6 linked regions of the Homo sapiens genome follow. The protein of the gene in region 3 purifies or fractionates together with the protein of the main gene of each other region. This does not show direct contact. Each region holds a gene or a part of one and is shown on either strand. Other genes may lie near its edges. The genes, in order: PREP, ACADL, MTHFD2, MCCC1, SCFD1 and MACROD1.

Region 1 (3,500 bases), on a different chromosome or scaffold from region 3:
ATCTTGTAATTCATTGGCGAATTTATAAAAAAGGTCTTGATGTAGCCTAATCAAAAGGCAGAAAAAGCTAAACATAGCCAAGAGATGAAAAACACTGTAGCCTTATTCTCAATTCAATTGTGGGGGAAAAAAAAAAACAGAAAAGAAAGCAAGGATATTTAAAGATGACAAAGATACAACAAGTCATGATAAGGGGACAACAGGTACAGCAGAAAGCACTGGAGTAGCTGTGCTTCTTGCCAGATCCCAGCCCTCCAGCAAATTACTGAGCCTCTGTGCCCAAGCTCCTAATCTCTAACACAGGGATTGTAAAACTTACCTGTAAAGACCAACCAACATAACAAGAAAATGCTACATACCACGTTGAAATGTGGGGTAGCAAAAGGAAGAAAATGACACATTGTACCAGTAAGGTACAAGGTACATAGCCCTTCCTGCCTGGGAAAATTTAGAAGTGAAGGAGCAAAGAGGGAGGAACCCCTTGAACACAACAGGATCTTTGTGCAATTAAAGAGAAGAACAATAAAGGTGTGTCCAGAAAGTAACAAGGAGAAAAGTATCAAGATAAATGGCAACCAACAGGTGACCTATAACTTCTGATCAGAGGAGAATATGCGATTACTGTAGCAGTAAAGTTTTATAATCACTCAACATAATCAAATAGCTTGGTTCGGTTTAAAAATTCACCTTCTCCATAATCTCCTTAGGAGATATAACACATCTATAAGGGACTGATTGATTGTAATAATGATCTCATTTTTCCGCAGTTCCCTGTATCTATTTCTCCACCCATTGAAAAGGGGCTGGCCCTCTGGCTTGCTTTAGCCAACAGAATGCAGCAAATCTGACGTGCCAGGAGCAAGCCTAGGCATTAAGAAGGCTGTGTCATTCAGCTCCCCGTCTTGCAATTCTACTGAGTTGCCATGTGAGCAAGCCCAGGCTAGTCTGCTAGTCGTCCCAGCTGAGGGCCCAGAAATGTAAAAGAGCCAAGCCAAGATGAACCAACTAACCTGCAGCTGACCACAGATACATGTTAGAACTCAGCCAAGGCCAGAAGAACTACCTGGCCAACCCATAGGCTCATAGCAAAAACAAATGTTTATTATTCTAAGCTACTACATTTTGGTGGGGTCTATTACACAGCAAAGCCAACTGATACAACATCCTTTGAGGAAACATGGTTCTGGACCACACAACCTCTATGTAGGGTTCAGCATCTCTTTTCAGTCACTTGAAGTCACACTTCATTTTGTGAAAAATGTGCTTCATCTGAAGTCTTCACTCACCATCACTTTTTCCATCCTGTTGAGGGTATGAGTTGTAGAACATTCCCTTCCCATCATGGGTCCAGGCCATACAGCTGAACTTGACTCTTTCAAGCACATCTGGAAGCTCTTTGGCACCATCAACTTTCATGAACTTGATTGTCACCCAGTCTGAGCCACTGGCACTCAGACCATAGGCAAAATATTCACCATCTTCGCTGAACGCATAACCTATGGGACACAGGAGAAATCATCCAGTGACAAACACGGAACACAACTCCACGGTCCTTTATGCCATCTAACAAAGCTCTCTTTCATAACACGGAGGTAGAATGTGGCAATAAAAGGAATAGGAATCTGGTAGTGAGGAATCCCGGGGGCTCAGCCCAAGTTTTACAGGAATTACCCTTATAACCTTAGACAAGCTTCCTAACCTCTCCAGGTCTTAATTTGTCTATAAAATGAAATATTAGATTATATGCCTACTAAAATGCTTTCATTTTGAAATTTTTATAATGCAATAGGCAGTTCAGTTAAAAGCAGAGCTCATCTGGGACTTCTGTCATATTTCATTTATACTCTAAAGGGAATAAGGAGAAAAAGGAAACTGCTTTTAGAGTAATGACTGAATTATGACACATACCATATAATAGAACTAAATTGTAGTCATTAGGTAATTTGGGAGATTGATTCCAAATTATCTAAAATCCCTTGTTACAGCCTCATTTTTGAAGCATTACCTGTGCAATGTCCACACTGTCTGACCATTACAAGCCTAGGTAAATAAAGCCTGAGGGTTTGCAGTGAAGGCGCCCGGAGTGCACATTCCACAAGAAATTGTGAAAGGAAAAGCAACATGTCTATAGACTGTCGTGCCATGTACAGTCCTTTAGGGCCCTGGCAGAATGTTCTAATCACTATGGAATGTTTCCTGGCAAATACTTGTGTTTCATATTAGCTTTTTTAATTATGAAGTATGTAAAGCATTCAATACAACACCTCCTATTGGAGACTCTGACACCAGAGATTTCCTCTTAGGCTGTTTGCTAAACGTTATTGGGTAATGAAAATTTTAAGAAGCTCAACTATTATTAGAGGTTTCCTATTCTTTTACGTGGAATTTCATTTGTTTAAAATTTCACAGAACCTACTCATTAACCATTGTAGGTCCTATAAAGTATCTAGGCTCATATGTATGTAAATGCAGAAAAGAGTCTAGAAAGTGATAGGAAAAAGAAACATATTCACCTTTTATTCTACATAGCACTGGAGTGTTTGAATTGTTTATATATATATATATATATATATATATATATATATATATATATATATATATATATATATATCAGAAAATTTTCAGAAAAATTTAAATAAAACATTTTGATTTGAAAAGTATGTTTAAAAATCATATACTACAAAAATAATCTGAATGTTTACTCCTTTTGTGATAACTTCCCTATAATACCACTCTTAGAAAACTCAATGACTGTTTGAGGCAGGTCTCATGCCTAATTTAGCTTCTCGCCCATCAAGGCTTTGTCCATAGCAAACATTCCATAAAGAAGTCACTAGAAGAATGCATTATCGGGGTGGGAGTTAAGACCCTGTCCCTCTGGATGGGCTGCAAGATAGATCCTTGTGGAAACTAAATGAATTCCTATATGGGATATGTTACTTCAACAGAACCAGTGTATTAAATTCACTGAAAACTACAAGCTCAGATTCATGGAAGAATCTGAGCTGGTGATGTCTTATTTTCGATACTGGTTCGATAAAGGATCATTGTTTATATACACAGCCTATTCAGAGGGAGGGGAAGGTGGACCACCGAATGACTGGATCATGGTTAGAAGTGTTTGTATAAAAAAGGGTCTTTGCACAGGTCTGATGGAACGGGGCTCTATAACTCCCATCTTATTGATTACAGAGGACTTCAATGTCTCAATTTCTCAATTCTAGAGGGCCATAACTAATCATATGGTTTTTTCTATAAAACCAGAAGGTACTACAGGAGAAATGCTGAGCCAACGTCATCTATAACATCATTATCATTGTAGAGTTTACAATTATTAAAATACAGAACTGGAGAATAACTTAGTTCCTTACCCTAGAACTCTGCTTACTGCAGAAACCTTGGATAATCTTCTCTATGGCCTACGGAGGAGGTTATCTTAGGGGCAGAGTTAAGTAGGAGATGTACAGCAACTGTGGACAAACTTAGTCTTTAAACCTCCA
Region 2 (3,500 bases), about 140 Mb from region 3:
ACTCTGTCGCCCAGGCTGGAGTGCAGTGGCGCAATCTCGACTCACTGCAACCTCCGCCTCTCGGGTTAGAGCGATTCTCATGCCTCTGGAGTAGCTGGGACTACAGGCACCTGCAACCACGCCTAGCTAATTTTTTTGTATTTTTAGTAGAAATGGTGTTTCGCCATTTTGCCCAGGCTGGTCTTGAACTCTTGACCTCAGGTGATCCACCCGCTTTGGCATCCCAAAGTGCTGGGATTACAGGAGTGAGCCACCGCACGTGGCCTCAGTGGCTTTTTTGATATTAGGCGATATATGGGAAGAGAAATAGCAGTCTAGTTTAAAAATTGATACAATCTTTGAACTAACAAACTGGCCAAGAAAGGTGATTATTGTTTCTTAAAGAGAATATAAGTCTCTCAAACTGAAACCAGAGATTTCAAATAAGCCATCAATCTACATTGTTTGCTTGGTACCAACTTGAAGGAGTTGACTCCGAGAAAACAGAGACCAAGGCTTATGCCACGCTCTAATCTTAAGCCATTTAGATGATTGCCTTCTCCCCACCTAATAGGCCTTTCTTAAATGTGAACTAAACCACACAAACATTGAGCCACTACATAGCTTCTGTTCTTAATGTAATTTTAGTAAAATATTTTTTCTAAGGACTATAAGCATATTAAATGTTTCCAATTATACTTACCAAAAAGATAAATTTGAAATCATTAGGCTGCCAGTTTGAATGTAGGTTTCATAATTTTTCCCTTTAGATACTTTATATTAAGATAATCTTAAAACATTTTTAGAAGCCTATAGCATTCTTACTCTCAGATTCAGAACAAACTGAACTTTTCTGTATAAATAAAAAATTTCCTTGGGAAAATTTTCTAAACCAAAATCATTGCTAAATAATCAGAAAAATATATTTTCTAGGGTGATGAGGAAAAAAAGCTATGGGGAGACTTCTGAGGCAAAAGACTGTTAGGAGAAAAGGAAATTCTGGAGATTGAGGAAGAAATATGAATGGGGACACTGCCTATTTACAAATTAGTACTGCTTCAAACTGATAAGAATATTCATATATGATAAAAAGATATATTTGATTTCTTTCAATTTGAAGGAAATAAATCTATTTAGAAAGAAGATTTTTAATTTTTTTAGAACAAAACAAATAATCAGATATTTAAGATATGTGACAACTTAGATCCTTTTCATATGCCAGTTAATTTTTCTGTATTGCTTTTTTTTTTTTTTGGTTTTAAAAAAAAAGTAGTATTTGGCCGGATGCAGTGGCTCACGCCTGTAATCCCAGTACTTTGGGATGCCAAGGCAGGCAGATCACTTGAGGCCAGGGGTTTGAGACCAGCCTGGCCAACATGGCAAAACCACACCTCTACTAAAAATACAAAAAAATTAGCCAGGTGTCATGGCACGCACCTGTTAATTCCAGCTACTCTGGAGACTGAGGCACAAGAATTATTTGAACCTGGAAGGTGGAGGTTGCAGTGAACCCAGATCATGCCACTGTACTCCAACCTGGGTGACAGAGCGAGACTGTCTCAAAATAAAATAAAAAATAAAAAAATTAAAAAATTTTTGAAAATACTATTTGTCCTTCTACATAAGGATTCAAATAAAGCCAAGGATCAAGCTTTTGTTTATTGGTCTCTTTACTTTATTTAAGAAAAATAAAATCCTAGTAGGGAGTTGATAAAAAAAAAGCTGTTTCCATTTGCTTGAATACATTTTGTCTGTATTCAGCTGAAAAATTCAAAAGATTGCACACCTCCTTTCCCTCTACATTTGATGTACAAAGTAAAGAAATTTTCCTTTTTCTTCACATCATAAAGAAGAGTGTATCAGAAAACTATACTTACTTTGCAATTGGGTACTCCCACATGTATCCCCAACCTCCATGGAGCTGTACACAGTCGTAAGCTACACTATTTTGTAACTCAGATGCCCTAAATGACCAAAATAAAAGGCAGAAAAGAAATGTTTGAAATGGATTTTCATGAGGTGCTTCAAAACCAGAAAACTAATTATTTACAATTGTTTAAATGTGCACATTTATTAAGCAATTAGAACGGCATATTAGCTAAGCAAAGAAGATAAAAATTACATATGAAATATATTTCAAGAGAATTTTCATATAAGAGTACCTTTTTCATTAATTATATTTCTTGCTAGGTTTTTGTTAGGCTAGAAACAAAAGGTAGAAAACTCAGATGATTAGATTTTGGCTATTTGAGGCTAGAAAAACATGCAGTAAAGACTTGAATATGTTCTAATTTATTTGGATTCTCTATATGATCTAAATTACTCAGCCACCTAGTTCTTTTTGCCCTTGTAATATGCATTTTTTCTCCAATGATGTCACTTTCTACTTGAAGATCACGATTCTGAATTTCAGTATAAAAAAGCAATTTTTTAGGGTTCTGACTTTTCAGAAATAAATTGAAGATAAAAGTGAAAACCTAAGAGGGCAGACTAACAAAGTATATGCTATCATATAGGAAACATTAGAAAATTATATAGAGATTATTATTCCTGAAGTGTATGTATTAGTATTATATATAATGTTTGTATACATAAACATGCAGTGCTTGAGAAAAATTCTTTTCTGATAATATCACAATTCTATCATTAAAATTCATGATAGAGATTTTATTCACCTTAACATAAAAATACATTAGTTCAAAATTCTTTTCTACTTATTTTTCTTTTCTTTCTTTCTTTTTGTTTGTGAGTCTGTTTTAGTGATGGAGTCTCACCCACTCTAGGGCCTAGGTTGGGATACAGTGGCACAATCATAGCTCATTACAGTCTTGAACTCCAGGGCTCAAAGGATCCTCTCACCTCAGCTTCTCAAGTAGGAGTTACTACAGTGGCAAGCTACAGCACCCCACTACTTATTTTTCAATAGTGGGAAGCATAAAGCAAAAATAAGGGTAGATACTTCTTTTTATTTAAAATAATTTAAAACTCAGACCATACGACAGGTGAGGATATTTCTAAGCAATATATTAACAATATAATTATTAATAGACAAGACTTTGGGGACAATAATATTTGGATTTCTCTAATTTTTTATATTTGGCAAGTATTTTAGTGAAATATTTACTGGGCTATAACTAGTTGCCTCCTGTGTTTCAGTGTGAAATATGAGCATGTGTATAAACCTGAGGTTTTCAAATAACAAGGTCAATGGCTATCCAAACTTCTCTTTTTCCAAAAATATGTAAATTTTTTTTACACTTTTTGCCACTAGTCAAAGAACTTCTTGTAAATGTAAATATAAAAAGTCTCCTCAAAAGTGCAAGTTTCTGAAAAGTAATTCCACATTATTTTTCAACCTGGCAATTTTGTTATTATGGGATCATTATATAAAGCACAAAATATTTCCCCTGTTCTACCTGTGATTGAACTGAACACAAGTTAATGAATAATGACAGGAATTTATTCTAAGTTACTCTTGGGCTAATGATATGGGAGAATGTTTGTTTTTAAAAAGAGGAAAC
Region 3 (3,500 bases):
CACACCTATAATCCCAACACTTTGGGAGTCCCAGCTACTCGGGAGGCTGAGGCAGAAGAATAGCTTGAACCCAGGAGGCAGAGGTTGCAGTGAGCCGAGATCGCGCCACTGCACTCCAGCCTGGGCAACAGAGTGAGACTCCCATCTCAAAAAAAAAAAAAAAAAAAAAAGTAAATAATCTATCCTAAATGTCCATGAAAGGTAGTATTTATTGATTTCATTTTTAAAAATAAAATTTCACCATTTACCTTCAAAATCCACATCTCCAACCAACTTGGGTTTGGCAGTTACAGGATCGTGAACTCTATTTATTCCCACATCAATGACTGCTGCTCCTTCCTTGATCATATCTGCTGTGATCAGATTTGGAATACCTGGAAATGGAGAAAGGAAAGATCAACTTAGTACTGAAAACAGTCTACCTGTCAGATTCTTGTCTAACTTCAATTTCAAGAGACCCTGAAGAACTAATCAACATGTTTTATTAAAACCTGTTAAAAATATTAACTAAGGAACTATTTACTTTTATTATTTTTTTATTTTGGCTCCTGACAGGAAACAAAAGGAACCATTTAAACTTTATACAGTAAATATTAATATAAATATTTTGAAGCTTTAGGAATAACATTCACCCATCTAGACTATAATGGACTGCCAGAAACCGGTATTCCAATCACAACTCTATCCTCATCTTTGTAGGCAGCTCAAAGAATCATTACAAGGGGAATGATGAATAGCAGCTAGGCAGGCGAATTCTAAGATGAGGGGTACAACCTCCTCTTCTGAGGTGAAGTCCTTCCCTCCATCCCCCTTGTGTTCTTACCTGCAGCAGATATTACAATATCTGCAAGAATTGTATGTTTCTTCAACTGCTCTTTGGGAGTATATCGATGAGATATTGTAACAGTGGCATCACCTAGAAAGAAAAAAATAGATGTCTTGATTTCTGACACAAAGCTGGGATTGGATTAGGTCTCAACTAGTCAAGTCATTGTAGAAACTCAACATCTCTGAAAAATAATTGACTTACGGCCAGGTGCAGTGGCTCACGCCTGTAATCCCAGCACTTTGGGAGGCCGAGGTGGGCAGATCACCAGGTCAGGAGTTCGAGGCCAACCTGGCCAACATGGTGAAACCCCGTCTCTACTAAAAATACAAAAATTAGCTGGGCGTGGTGGCGCATGCCTGTAATCCCAGCTACTTGGGAGGCTGAGGCATGAGAATCACTTGAACCTGGAAGGTGGAGGTTGCAGTGAGCCAAGATTGTGCCACTGCACTAGCCTGGGCAACAGGGCAAGACTCCATCTCCAGGAAAAAAAAAAAAAAAAACTGACTTAATGGCTTGTGCCATGTTTTCTGAACAGCTAATTGTCATTTACTTTTTTAAAATTAATACCTAATATCATATAGCTTTAACCCATTGGTCCCAGCTCGACTGTTTTGAGTCATATAATTAAATTTATTCATCCTATTTTTAAAGCCTTTCAAGAATTTTACCTTTTCTAAGCAAAATATCACTAAAATTACTCAAGGTTGTTTTAAGTATGTTGAAAGATAGTTGAAAGTATATAGTTTTGCCTTTATTTCTGATATAATCATGTAAGGTCATTATTACAATAATTATGTGATAACTGATTGACGAGGCTTTACCTTAGAACCAATTAACAGAACCTGACAGGACACATTACAGTCATACCAATCCAATCCTTTGCAACGGCTAAAGATTTTTTTCCACTAAATGACACAGTATCTTTGAATAAGAATTGCTCCTTAGCTCCAGCTATCAAAGCTATAGCTGAAATTTTCTAATTGCCTACAACCATGCTTATACTCAAAACTTAAATTTATTTCTGAAGCTAGTTACATGATAAATGAATAATAAAGAAACTCAGGTGACACTGGGTGCAGCTTCTCTACAAAGGTTACTCCCTGAATTGTCTGTTAACAAAATTTCAACAAATACAAAGTATAACAGAGTTAATACTTCCAAACATGCACAGGATGGCTTCTGAAAGTTCTTACATGGGGAAAAAAGGACAGTGTTCCCTGAAAGCAATTTCCTTACCTCCGGGACGTTCATGCGCCCCATCTGTGTGCAGTAACATTGCAATGGGCATTCCAACGTTTTTTGACCTTCCAGCCACAACCACATTCTTCCCTAGGGTTGGAATGCCTATAAAAATATATGTATTGACATTAAAAGTAGTGCCAGTCCAAAGGAAAACAAAGTCAGATGGCCTAGAACATGAACCCAATTTTGCCTCATCAGTCAACTGGAGCTGTAACTTGCTACACATAATAAGGGCTAAAAGAAAACAGGAGAAAGCATACTACAGGCTACAAAATGTTACAGGAATGTGCACTGTCACCACTATCAAATCTTAAATTTCCTTCACTGAGGGCTGGGGCGGTGGCTCACACCTGTAATCCCAGCAGGAGGGAGGATTGCTTGAGGCCAGGGAGGCTAAGGTAGGAGAATTGCTTGAGGCCAGGAGTTTGAGACCAGCCTGGGCAGCATGATGAAACCTCTGACTCTTAAAGAAAAAATTAAAAAGAAAAATAGAGGCCACGCGCGATGGCTCACACCTGTAATCCCAGCACTTTGGGAGGCCAAGGCAGGTGGATCACAAGGTCAGGAGATCAAGACCATCCTGGCTAACACGGTGAAACCCCGTCTGTACTAAAAATACGAGAAAAAAAAAAAGTTAGCCAGGCATGGTGGTGGGCACCTGTAGTCCCAGCTACTCAGGAGGCTGAGGCAGGAGAATGGCATGAACTCAGGAGGTGGAGCTTGCAGTGAGTCGAGATCACGCCACTGCACTCCAGCCTGGGCAACAGAGCAAGACTCCGTCTCAAAAACAAAAAAAAAGAAAAAGAAAAATAGAAAATTTCCTTCACTGAGACTTCTGGATTAAAAAGCAAAAACTGTCATAGGCAACTGTTAAGGGCAGGCACGATGGCTCATGCCTATAATCCCAGCACTCTGGGAGGCTGAGGGGGCGGATCACCTGAGGCCTAGTTCGAGACCAGCTTGGTCAATATGGTGAAACCTGTCTCTACTAGAAATAAAAAAATTAGCTGGGCATGGTGGCACGTGCCTGTAATCCCAGCTACTCAGGAGGCTGAGGCATGAGAATCGCTTGAACTCAGGAGGCAGAGGCTGCAGTGAGCCAAGATCGCGCCACTGCACTCCAGCCTGGGTGACAGAGCAAGACCCTGTCTCAAAAAAAACAAAAAACAAAAAAAAAACTGTTAAGAGAGGTAAACTTTGGGGAGTAAGACTAGAGGATATGCAGTAGGGTTTCCACTCTTTGGGACTGTATGAGTTTTTACCATTTGCCAGTACTACTTTTATAATATTAACACAGACATGCAATTCTGGGATATACCTACCAGTTCGCTTGATTATTTCCCACACACCCCATGGAGTAGCCGGTAACATGGAATACTGATCCAAACACATTCGTCCTACATTAATTACATGAAAGCCATCAACATCC
Region 4 (3,500 bases), on a different chromosome or scaffold from region 3:
AATTCTACTGCTTCAGCCTCCTGAGTAGCTGAAATTACAGGTGCCTGCCACCACGCCTGGCTAATTTTTGTATTTTTAGTAGAGACGGGGTTTCACCACATTGGCCAGGCTGGTCTCGAACTCCTGACCTCAGGTGATCCACCTGCCTTGGCCTCCCGAAGTGCTGGGATTACAGGTGTGAGCCACCACACCCGGCCAATACTAACTAATCTTTAATAAGCACTTTCTGTGCCTCAGGTCCTGTGCTAAAGACTCAACATCGACTTAAATTTTCACAATAATCCTAATGAAATAGATACTATCATTGTTATCTCAATTTTAAAGATGAAGAAACTAATGCTGAAAGAGCTATTATTTTCCCAAAATTACACAGCTAAAGAAACAATCTGGGACTTCAACCTAGATCTGCGTCACTCCAGAATTTAAGCTTTCAGTCACTCTGCTCCTCTGCCTCTATCCCTATGTACATAGGTGTGTGTGGTTCTCTTGCAACACAAGTGACTCTTGTACCAGTCTACTGGCATGGCACCATAATGACAAGCTACTGCATATATAAAATGTACTTCTAATATCACACGTGAAATAAATGTTCTTTGACAGTTCATAATAAAGTTATTTCTTCAATAGAATCCATAGGCTCAACATAATAAAGTTATTTCTCCTTTTAAAAAAAAAAAGGTTGCACCTAATTTAAAAGTGTTTTTCGATGGGGCTCTATGGAGCCCAAGAGTTGTCACAGGGGCTGATGGATGACATATGTATGAGTGTGGGCAGGGGAAGGAGAGCACAGTAGGTAGAGGGCTATATCCAATCAGCTAGAAGTTATACTTTATTACACTTTTATATGTTTCATAGTTGGGAATTCCATGTTAAATTTTATTTGGAAAAAAAGGTTTTGCTACTTAAAATAGCTTTTTCAAAGAACTGCTTTAGACCATCGTAGTTATGATTTTCCAATCCAATACACTAAGAGGGTCAAATGGACAGAAAGAACAAACGAATATAAAATGTTCTCCATTATTGCCCTCTGTATTTTATTTATTTATTTTTACTTTTTTTTTTTTTTTTTTGAGACGAAGTCTTGCTCTGTCGCCCAGGCTGGAGTGCAGTGGCGAGATCTTGGCTCATTGCAACCTGCGCCTCCTGGGTTCAAGCAATTCTCCTGCCTCAGCCTCCCAAGCATCTGGGATTACAGGCACCCGCCACCACGCCCAGCTAATTTTTGTATTTTTTAGTAGACACAGGGTTTTGCCATGTTGTCCAGGCTGGTCTCGAACTCCTGACCTCAGGTGATCCACCCACCTCAGCCTCCCAAAGTGCTGGGATACAGGCATGAGCCACTGCGCCCGGCTGCCCTCTGTATTTTAGACTTAACAGCAAGAGAGATTTGATACAAAAGAGGTGAAAACCATGACTTAACACTTCCTAGAAAATTATCGTGAAAATCCAAAATTTATGATAACTAATTCTATTATGCATATATTAAGGGATTAAACATTTCCCTTTCTTAAACACTTCCAGTCTGAAGCAAAATCAAATAGAACAACAAAGTCTGTCAGTACCTGTGGCTGTTGTGTACTTCATGGTTCTTTGCCTCCACACCCATGTCCTATAACATAAATCCAAAAGGAATTACAATTAAACAGAATAGGCAACACAATTGTTCTTTCAAAAGAATTTCAGTTTCTTAAAACATGAAACCTTAAGCCAACTAACAGTGCTTTAGTAAGACTTTCTTAGTGGGTAGAAAACTAATCTAGAACTCAAGAGTTAGAGTTCTGGCTGTTTTCCCTCGTACTACCTGTCCTTGAATGAGTCACCTAGCCTGCTTGTTCCTGAGGCTGGCATAAGACCACAGTCAGAGATGATTAAACAACCAAGGTATACCAACATCATCTAGTTTAGCTTTTTTGAAACCTTTTTGGCTACAACTCACAATACAAACTACCCAGGACACACACTTAATGAAAACAGATGTTTTGTTAAAAATGACTCATTCTGCCCTGGCCAGGCACGGTGGCTCACACCTGTAATCCCAGCACTTTGGGAAGCCGAGGCAAGCAGATCATGAGGTCAGGAGATTGAGGCCATCCTGGCTAACACGGTGAAACCCTGTCTCTACTGAAAACACAAAAAATTAGCCGGGCGTCATGGCGGGCACCTGTAGTCCCAGCTACTCGGGAGGCTGAGGCAGGAGAATGGCGTGAACCCAGGAGGCAGAGCTTGCAGTGAGCCGAGACTGGGCCACTGCACTCCAGCCTGGGTGACAGAGCGAGACTCCGTCTCAAAAAAAAAAACAAAAACAAAAAGAACAAAACTCTTTTGGTTCTTTCAGTTGTATCCTATTTTATTAAAATATGCTGGTCAATCTACAGTTTGAAAAATACCAATCAAGTTTAAACATGAGACATGTTTAAAAAGTAAGACCAGAGAAATAAACGGAAGTTAAACAGGGGCAACAGAAAGAATGTTGGCTGTGGGACCAGAAAAGCTGCATTCTCATCCGAGTCCCTCCAATGACCAGCTTGCCCAGGGTCGAGTCACTTTACATCAGTGTTTCTCCAACTTTTTTTTCATTATTACTCTCCTAATGAGAAAACTTTTAAAAGATTTTATTCCTTGTAGGAAGGGTGGGGTAAGGTTGAGCTTTGGAAAGCCGTAAACCATGACAAAATCTAAGATTTCCTGGCTCTCCTAAGAATCAATTTCCACCCTTTAGCGGTGGTATCATCCCAGTTGAGGATGCAAGATTTAATAGCTTGGGCTTCAGTGTTCTCACACACGAGATGAGACTATAAGAGGTGATCTTGAAGGTACCTCTCAGATTTAAAAGTACTATACAATTCTATTCCAAGTCCTTGTATTTAAAAAAATGGAGAAATGGGGAGACAAAATGACTTGAGGTATTTTAATGAGGTAGAAGTCTCAACAATTTTTAAGTTTCGTGATACCTGTGTATAAAATAAAGTAACCAAGAGCTGACAGAAAACAGGCCAGATTCACTTTAGGAACAAAAAAGTATAACGTCTATTAAGTTTCAGCTAAAGAGGATAAGTGGGCTGGGTGCAGTGGCTCACGCCTGTAATCCTAGCAATTTGAGAGGCTGAGGTGGGGGGATTACCTGAGGTCAGGAGTTCGAGACCAGCCTGGCCAACATGGTGAAACCCCATCTCTACTAACAATACAAAAATTAGCCAGGTGTGGTGGTGCGCACCTGTAATCTCAGCTACTTGGGAGGCTGAGGCAGGAGTATCACTTGAACTTGGGAGGTGGAGGTTGCAGTGAGCCAAGATCGTGCCACTACATTCCAGCCTGGGTGACAGAGTGAGACTCCATCTCAAAAAAAAAAATAAATAAATAAATAAAAAGCATATGCAGGGAAACAAACAAATTACAGAAGCAATTCCACCTATCTTTTTGTCTATACCTGGAAGATGTGGTTATAAAGGACTAACTAACCATTTTAGATTATTCACAAAGCACAAGATAAAAGCACAGCG
Region 5 (3,500 bases), on a different chromosome or scaffold from region 3:
AAATTTATTCAAAGTACATTAGAAATAATGAGTGATAAAACTGCATTAATTTGCCATGTGATTTACTGTGGGCAGATATACATATCCCATGTGATGCTATGCCCCCTTAAAGTTTAGGGTACTTCATGGGCTCAGTTACTGCTATAAAAGTTATCTAGTGATCATTATGGCTAGAGCCATCATTCTAAACAAACAAAAATATTATTCCTCAGAGAAAAAGAATACTGTTCATCAACAATTATGAAAATATGATTTTTAAAAAATATTTCAAAATGTGTGTGTGTCCTTGATATAGCTGTTCTTTTTGGGCTTATATTTATTGTTTAAAGAGAAGTCGAATATAGACTTGGTTCAACATGCTGGGTTTTTAATATGCTTTATCTTTTTTTTACTTACAACTTTTTTTTAAGCTGGAAAATCAAATCGCCATAACAAAGATTTGACTTTCTCTGCAGAGAAAAGTCACTGTCTTTCTCTTTCTCACTATGGCAGTTTTAGGTACTATTTTAATTAATTTTAATAAATTTGATTTTAAATAATACTCTTCCCTTTGGAATTCCATAATCTACGTTTCCCTCCAGAATGGTGAAGTACAAGAAATTACTTTTATTAGAGAGGCATTATTTATAGAGAATACAGAATATTTTGAAGTTGGCATTCCCTAATAGAGAAAAGCTTAAGAAAAAAATCTCTGTATTCAAATATGGAAATTTTGAATTTTTTTAGAACATATGTTTAAGAACAATTTAAGAGGTCAGTTGAATAGTAAGAATTTTAACCTCCTATTCATTAAGTAGGAATAGCTCTTTTGCTCTGCATCTTACATACAATAGTAACATGGGCACAAAGACACTTGGAGATAGCATAAACAAGTGACCTAAACCTCTCTGAGCTTCAGTTTCCTCATCAGTAAAATAGGGAGATAATAATTCTACCTATTGCCCTATTTCAGAAGGTTGTTGAGAAGATTGAGATAATGAATTTAAAGGAGTAATTTGCCCAAGTCATCCAGCTTTCGTTGGTAAAGCCAGGGATGAAACCCAGGTCTTGCAGACCATAAAGCACCCAGTCTTAACATTGAATAGTTAAGTTATGATAGTTACCTCAACAGATTCATCAGGATTAAATGAGGTTGCAGTGAGCCGAGATCACGCCATTGCACTCCAGCCTGGGCAACAAGAGCAAAACTCCATCTTAAAAAAAAAAAAAAGAAAGAAAAGATAAATTCTTAGCATGGTGTTTGATGTATAGTAAAATCACTTAATAAATGTGAGCAATTATTCTCTGTTAACTCTGAGACCTAAAGATATCAGAGATTTTGAGGATTATCCAGTTCAACCCACACATTTTACAGATAAAGCTAGGGCCCTGAGAGGGTAAGAGCTTGCCTGTAAAGGAAGTTTCCATTATAATTAGATGGAACAAGGGTTTCTGACTCCCCAGTGCAATGCTGAGGCCTCAGTGCTATTTTTTGCCAACATAGACTCAACTGGAGCTGGAGTAAATGCCTGTGCTTGTGAGGTAAAATTGGACTGTGTTCCTCAGAATCCTTTCTGAGCTCCTGTCTTTTCTGCTAGTCTCCATTGGATAAAATGTGCTTGTTATTAGAGAGGTATTTTCAGATGTCAGAGCTGAGGAAGGGGGGAAAGGTTTTTGTTCACTGTTAATGAGACATGACCTTTTCTTTCTTAAAGGAGAAAAGGCTTCTGGCCTCCCCCTAGGCTGTAGATGAAAAATACTCATTTTAAGAAACATTTAATGATCAACATGTATTCACCTAGAGTTTGTCAAGATTAGTACAGTGTTTTCTACCTGAGTGCTCATGATTGCAGATCACTTCTGCCTAAAGTCTATGTAAGTTACTGCTAAACCACAATGTCCTGGTAGAAGACATCAGGTATTAGGCCACCAAAACTGTGGCCCAAGTGCTATTTTTACCAGTAGTGTTCTGGGATATTATGAGTTCTGAGTTACAAGAATTTTTTCACAGTTACTTGCAGGTGATATTTTTAAATGCTGTCTTTGTAGTTGCATGGACCCTTTGACATGACGTGTTAATTTGGATGGGAATATTTAATTGATATTTGATATAACATGACTTGTCTTCCATTGATTTTCAGTCATGTAAATATTTTACTTTTTCTTCTAAAAACGTATAAGTGAAGAGAATGTATGATACTGTTAATGAAAAATAGAAATGAAATTTAAATTTTAGATGTATATTATATGCATTTTAAAGAAATAGTATTATATAGATATCAGAAAGATATGTAGTTGTATTTGTGCTGAATCTTTTCTGCCTTTGTTATATATAACATATATTCAAATCCAAATAAGTATATTTAAAATAATAAATGTTCATTGTATATATTTTAGAATTTACACAAAAATTGGTCTTTTAATGTCATCCTCATAGTTCTTGTGCAATACTGTTTTAGTCCATTCCCAGAAGTTGCAGAATCAGTTCAGCAAGAACTAGAATCTTACAGAGCACAGGAAGATGAGGTCAAACGACTTAAAAGCATTATGGTAAGATTCTATTTGCTTTCTAAGAATTATAGGAAAGAGGAGGATTATCTGTTAGATAAAGAGATTTGGGTTTTTTTCCTTATAAAAATTGAAGGCCATTTAATGCTTTTATAACAAAAATATTTTCAACTTGCGTAAGTGATCAAAAAGAAATCTAAATATTGAGAAGAGAAAAAATAATATATGATTTGAAAAAATATATAATGTAGCATCATTTTAGAGATGTATGTTCCAATGCTGCTCATTCTACCATACTTCGATGTAACTTCAGATTTCAGCTCTACTGTTTATTGCTGTGTGACCTATGGCACGTCTCTGGGCCTGTCTCCTTATCCAAAAATGCCAGCTGATCATTTAGACATCTAACCATTAGACTGGCGATTACTAGAACTTTTATGTAACATTAAAATATATATGCTTGCACCTCAGAGGAGGAGAATTACTATTCTAGGTGACTTAAAAATCTTACGGTATATCAATAATCTTAGGATATTTGCTCCAATCTTAGGATGTGTTGATTTTTATGCTTGTGCCTGGGATTTTTGAGTAGCTATTGAGACCTTTTTTCTTTACAAGGGACTAGAAGGGGAAGATGAAGGAGCCATAAGTATGCTTTCTGACAATACCGCTAAGCTAACATCAGCTGTTAGGTAAGTGAGCAGTATATCCTCTTTGAAGTCTTTCTGTTGATAGGATTTTTTTTTTATTTAACTAAAAAATTGTTAATGTTTTTAACTAGTAGGAAACTGTAGGCAATAGCAAATATAACTTTGAATTTAAAGAACTAAATTGTATTTAGCTAAATGTTTAAGCCGATTTTAGTTCCCTCTTAGATATAGGAGATTATTCATTCTTTCACCAGTTAGAACTGTGTAATAGGGGTAATTTTATGAGGAAAATACTATTAATGATAAAGTAGGGCAAGCGATTATTAATTTTATTATAGATACTGTTTTCTTAACTAAAAGTTA
Region 6 (3,500 bases), on a different chromosome or scaffold from region 3:
GCTCCTTATCTCCGAGTAAACATTTCAGTCCTAATAAACAGGAGAGACACGGGCGTCAGGGCTCTGTCGATTCCCATCCTGATTTAGGACCTGCCTCCCTTCTTACCATACAATAGGAGAGTGTTTTAAAAAATGTTTTTATTGAGCCAGTAAAAGCTTTCCAGGAGGGAGGTGGGAGAGAGGAGGGGGCCTGGCAGACACCAGGCCAAAGGGTCTGTCGGGAAGGCTGGCAGCTGCCCCAAGCCCATCAAGCCTTCCTGAAGCAGACACAGGCCTTCCCCCTGGGGGGCCCGTCCATCCTGCTCTACCTGCAGAACTCCTATTTAGCCTTCGGGACCCAAGTCAAATGCTCCCTCTGCTGGGAAGCCTCCTACCAAACTGGGTCTCCCTGAAGGCAGAGCCAAGCCCTGAGTCCCAGCATTTGGCATAGCTCCCTCAACTCAGAGAGAGCTCCAGGGAAGAATGGGTAGTAAGGGAGTAGGGGGACTTCCCCAGGACTCACTGCATTGCCAGCACCATCTAGTTCGGCCCCAGGGTGTGGTGGGTGGGGGTCCAGGCCCAGAGTGAGGCAGGCACAGGAGTCCTGTGCCCTCCAGGTTAAGTCCCTTTAGCCCCAGCAGCCCCTGGGGGCTCTCACTGCATTGGGGGTGCCCGGGAGACTCCCTTCTCTGCTCCCCTGAGACTGCAGCCCTCTTCTGCTCTAAATCACCGCACATTTGCCGTAAAAACAGTGGGCTCGGGCCCCAAAGCCCTGCAGGCCAGTCCCAGCCCCATCTTCTGAGCCCCAGTTGCGCCGGCCCCTCCTGGCAGGAACTCCACGCCACTACCCACACCAGGGTGTTGGCCGGGGTGTTGGCTGGGATGTTGGTTGGGTTGTTGCCTGGGGTATTGGTTGGGGTGTTGGTTGGGGTGTTGGCTGGGTTGTTGGTTGGGGTGTTGGCTGGGGTGTTGGCTGGGGTGTTGCCCAGGGTGTTGGTTGGGGTGTTGGTTGGGGGGTTGGCTGGGGTGTTGGTTGGGGGGTTGGTTGGGGTGTTGGTTGAAGTGTTGCCTGGGGTGTTGGTTGGTGTGTTGGCTGGGGTGTTGGTTGGCATATTGGTTGGGGTGTTGCCCAGAGTGTTAGCTGGGGTGTTGGTTGGGGTGCTGGCTGGCATGTTGGTTGGGGTGTTGGCTGGCATGTTGGGGTGTTGGAGTGTTGGCTGGTATGTTGTTTGGGGTGTTGGTTGGGGTGTTGGTTGGAGTGTTGGTTGGAGTGTTGGCTGGGATGTTGGCTGGGGTGTTGACCGGGGTGTTGGCTGGAGTGTTGGTTGAGATGTTGGCTGACATGTTGGGGTGTTGGTTGGGGTGCTGGCTGGCATGTTGGTTGGGGTGTTGGCTGGGGTGTTGGTTGGGGTGTTGGTTGGTGTGTTGGTTGGGGCGTTGGCTGGCATGTTGGTTGGCATGTGTTGGTTGGGATGTTGGCTGGCATGTTGATTGGGGTGTTGGCTGCCATGTTGCTTGAGGTGTTGGCTGGGGTGTTGGTTGGAGTGTTGTTTGGGGTGTTAGTTGGGGTGCTGGCTGGTGTGTTGGTTGGGGTGTTGGCTGGCATGTTGGCTGGCATGTTGGTTGGGGTGTTGGTTGGCATGTTGGTTGGGGTGTTGGCTGGCATATTGGTTGGCACGAGTTGGTTGGGGTGTTTGGGATGTTGGCTGGCATGTTGGTTGGGGTATTGGTTGGGGTGTTGGCTTGCATGTTGGCTGGAGTGTTGGTTGGGGTGTTTGCTGGTGTATTGTTTGGGGTGTTGGCTGGCATGTTGGTTGGGGTGTTGGCCAGGGTGTTGGCTGGCATGTTGGTTGGGGTGTTGGCTGGCATGTTGGTTGGCATGTGTTGGTTGGGGTGTTGGTTGGGATGTTGGCTGGTGTGTTGGTTGAGGTGTTGGTTGGGATGTTGGCTGGCGTGTTGGCTGGCATGTTGGTTGGGGTGTTGAAGTGTTGGCTGGGGTGTTGGTTGGCATGTTGGTTGGGGTGTTGGCTGGCATATTGGTTGGCACGAGTTGGTTGGGGTGTTAGGATGCTGGTTGGCATGTTGGTTGGGGTATTTGTTGGGGTGTTGGCTGGCGTGTTGGCTGGGGTGTTGGTTGGGGTGTTGGTTGGGGTGTTTGCTGGTGTATTGTTTGGGGTGTTGGCTGGCATGCTGGTTGGGGTGTTGGCTGGCATGTTGTTGGGGTGTTGGCTGGCATGTTGGTTGGGCTGTTGGCTAGGATGCTGATTGGGGTGTTGGCCAGGGTGTTGCCTGCTGCCCCTCTCCATTGAGGGACTGGCAGACTGGCAGTCCCCAGGGTGAGGGGATGGGATGTGGGTGCCAGACTGAGAGCTGTGTCCCTGGCTCCCAGGGCACACAGAGGGTGCCACTCACTGCACCACAGATGTTAATTATTTACTTCAAAGCAGGAAGCTCTTCTAGGAGCTCAGAATCTCCCATAACCCTGCCCTCGGGGGAGTCCATTCCGGTGGGGAGGCAGGCAATGAAGAACAAACACAAAACGCAAGCAGGGAATCAGGGCTGCGGGACGAAGACATGGAGCAGGGCAGTGCATCAGGGTTCTGGGCAGAGTGGCCAGGGCAGGCAGGATGGCCCTTGTGCGTGTTCGAACAATGGGTGGCTGGTCATGGGAGGGGCGCGGGTAGAGGCCTGAACTCCTGTAGGAGGGATGTCCAGGGACCCCACGGGAAGATGGGTGTGTCTGGGCAGAGTCAGATGGGGTCTAACTTGGGCAGGTAGGCGATTAGGACTGGATGAACTCAAAGGATGGTGGGAGGAGCAGGGGTATAGGGGAGGGCAGAGCACCTCCGGGGACCAGGCTGGGCTCCATTCCAGCCCCAGCATCGTCCCTACCACAGCCCCCTCCCCACCACCTCCACTGTGTTCCAATCACATTAGCAGAGTGACAGTCCCAGCAAGTGCTGGCGGCGGCTCCATAAATCTCAGCCCATGTTAAAAGGTTGGACTCCGGGCCCACTTCCTCCAGGGGCACCCGCCCCGTCCATCTCTCCATCAGTCAGGTTGTGTGAGAGGCCTGTGCCAGCCGCTCCGCACCCCTAAATGCTGGAAGGAGAACCAGAGAGACCTCTGCCATGCCTCTGAGTGGCCAGGGCAGGGCCCCTCCACTTCCTAGAGTGAGGTCACAGGCCATCTGTGAGCCACTCCTGGATTTGCCAAAACATCTTTGGTTTCCACCAGCTGCCCTTGGGTAAGTCCGTTGCTTAATGTGTAGGGTCATCTCCACCTTTACCTGTAGTTCATTCATTCAATAAACTTTTTTTTTTTTTGAGACAGGGTCTCGCTGTGTTACCCAAGCTGGAGTGCAGTGGTGTGATCTTGGCTCACTGCAGCCCCTGCCTATGGGGTTCAAGCAATTCTCCTGCCTCAGCCTTCTGAGTAGCTGGGATTACAGGTGTGTACCACCATGCCCAGCTAATTTTTGTATTTTTAGTAGAGACGGGGCTTCACCATGTTGGCTAGGC

The links.
Region 1: the proteins of MTHFD2 (region 3) and PREP fractionate together in Homo sapiens (co-fractionation; one large-scale study listed by BioGRID). This does not show direct contact.
Region 2: the proteins of MTHFD2 (region 3) and ACADL purify together in Homo sapiens (affinity purification with mass spectrometry; 2 studies listed by BioGRID and IntAct, with this or other methods). This does not show direct contact.
Region 4: the proteins of MTHFD2 (region 3) and MCCC1 fractionate together in Homo sapiens (co-fractionation; one large-scale study listed by BioGRID). This does not show direct contact.
Region 5: the proteins of MTHFD2 (region 3) and SCFD1 fractionate together in Homo sapiens (co-fractionation; one large-scale study listed by BioGRID). This does not show direct contact.
Region 6: the proteins of MTHFD2 (region 3) and MACROD1 purify together in Homo sapiens (affinity purification with mass spectrometry; one large-scale study listed by BioGRID and IntAct). This does not show direct contact.

The regions. Positions count from the first base shown.
Region 1 is NC_000006.12:105,372,083-105,375,582, forward strand, and holds part of PREP (prolyl endopeptidase), read right to left. Parts: intron 1,497-3,500; coding exon 1,287-1,496; intron 1-1,286. UniProt on the Homo sapiens protein: Cleaves peptide bonds on the C-terminal side of prolyl residues within peptides that are up to approximately 30 amino acids long.
Region 2 is NC_000002.12:210,190,948-210,194,447, forward strand, and holds part of ACADL (long-chain specific acyl-CoA dehydrogenase, mitochondrial precursor), read right to left. Parts: intron 1,944-3,500; coding exon 1,857-1,943; intron 1-1,856. UniProt on the Homo sapiens protein: Long-chain specific acyl-CoA dehydrogenase is one of the acyl-CoA dehydrogenases that catalyze the first step of mitochondrial fatty acid beta-oxidation, an aerobic process breaking down fatty acids into acetyl-CoA and allowing the production of energy from fats.
Region 3 is NC_000002.12:74,208,615-74,212,114, reverse strand, and holds part of MTHFD2 (bifunctional methylenetetrahydrofolate dehydrogenase/cyclohydrolase, mitochondrial isoform A precursor), read right to left. Parts: coding exon 3,394-3,500; intron 2,174-3,393; coding exon 2,066-2,173; intron 917-2,065; coding exon 824-916; intron 375-823; coding exon 249-374; intron 1-248. UniProt on the Homo sapiens protein: Although its dehydrogenase activity is NAD-specific, it can also utilize NADP at a reduced efficiency.
Region 4 is NC_000003.12:183,092,997-183,096,496, forward strand, and holds part of MCCC1 (methylcrotonoyl-CoA carboxylase subunit alpha, mitochondrial isoform 1 precursor), read right to left. Parts: intron 1,613-3,500; exon of another isoform or gene 1,610-1,612; coding exon 1,563-1,609; intron 1-1,562.
Region 5 is NC_000014.9:30,670,819-30,674,318, forward strand, and holds part of SCFD1 (sec1 family domain-containing protein 1), read left to right. Parts: intron 1-2,438; coding exon 2,439-2,529; intron 2,530-3,105; coding exon 3,106-3,179; intron 3,180-3,500. UniProt on the Homo sapiens protein: Plays a role in SNARE-pin assembly and Golgi-to-ER retrograde transport via its interaction with COG4. Involved in vesicular transport between the endoplasmic reticulum and the Golgi.
Region 6 is NC_000011.10:64,009,114-64,012,613, forward strand, and holds part of MACROD1 (ADP-ribose glycohydrolase MACROD1), read right to left. Parts: intron 1-3,500. UniProt on the Homo sapiens protein: Removes ADP-ribose from aspartate and glutamate residues in proteins bearing a single ADP-ribose moiety. Inactive towards proteins bearing poly-ADP-ribose.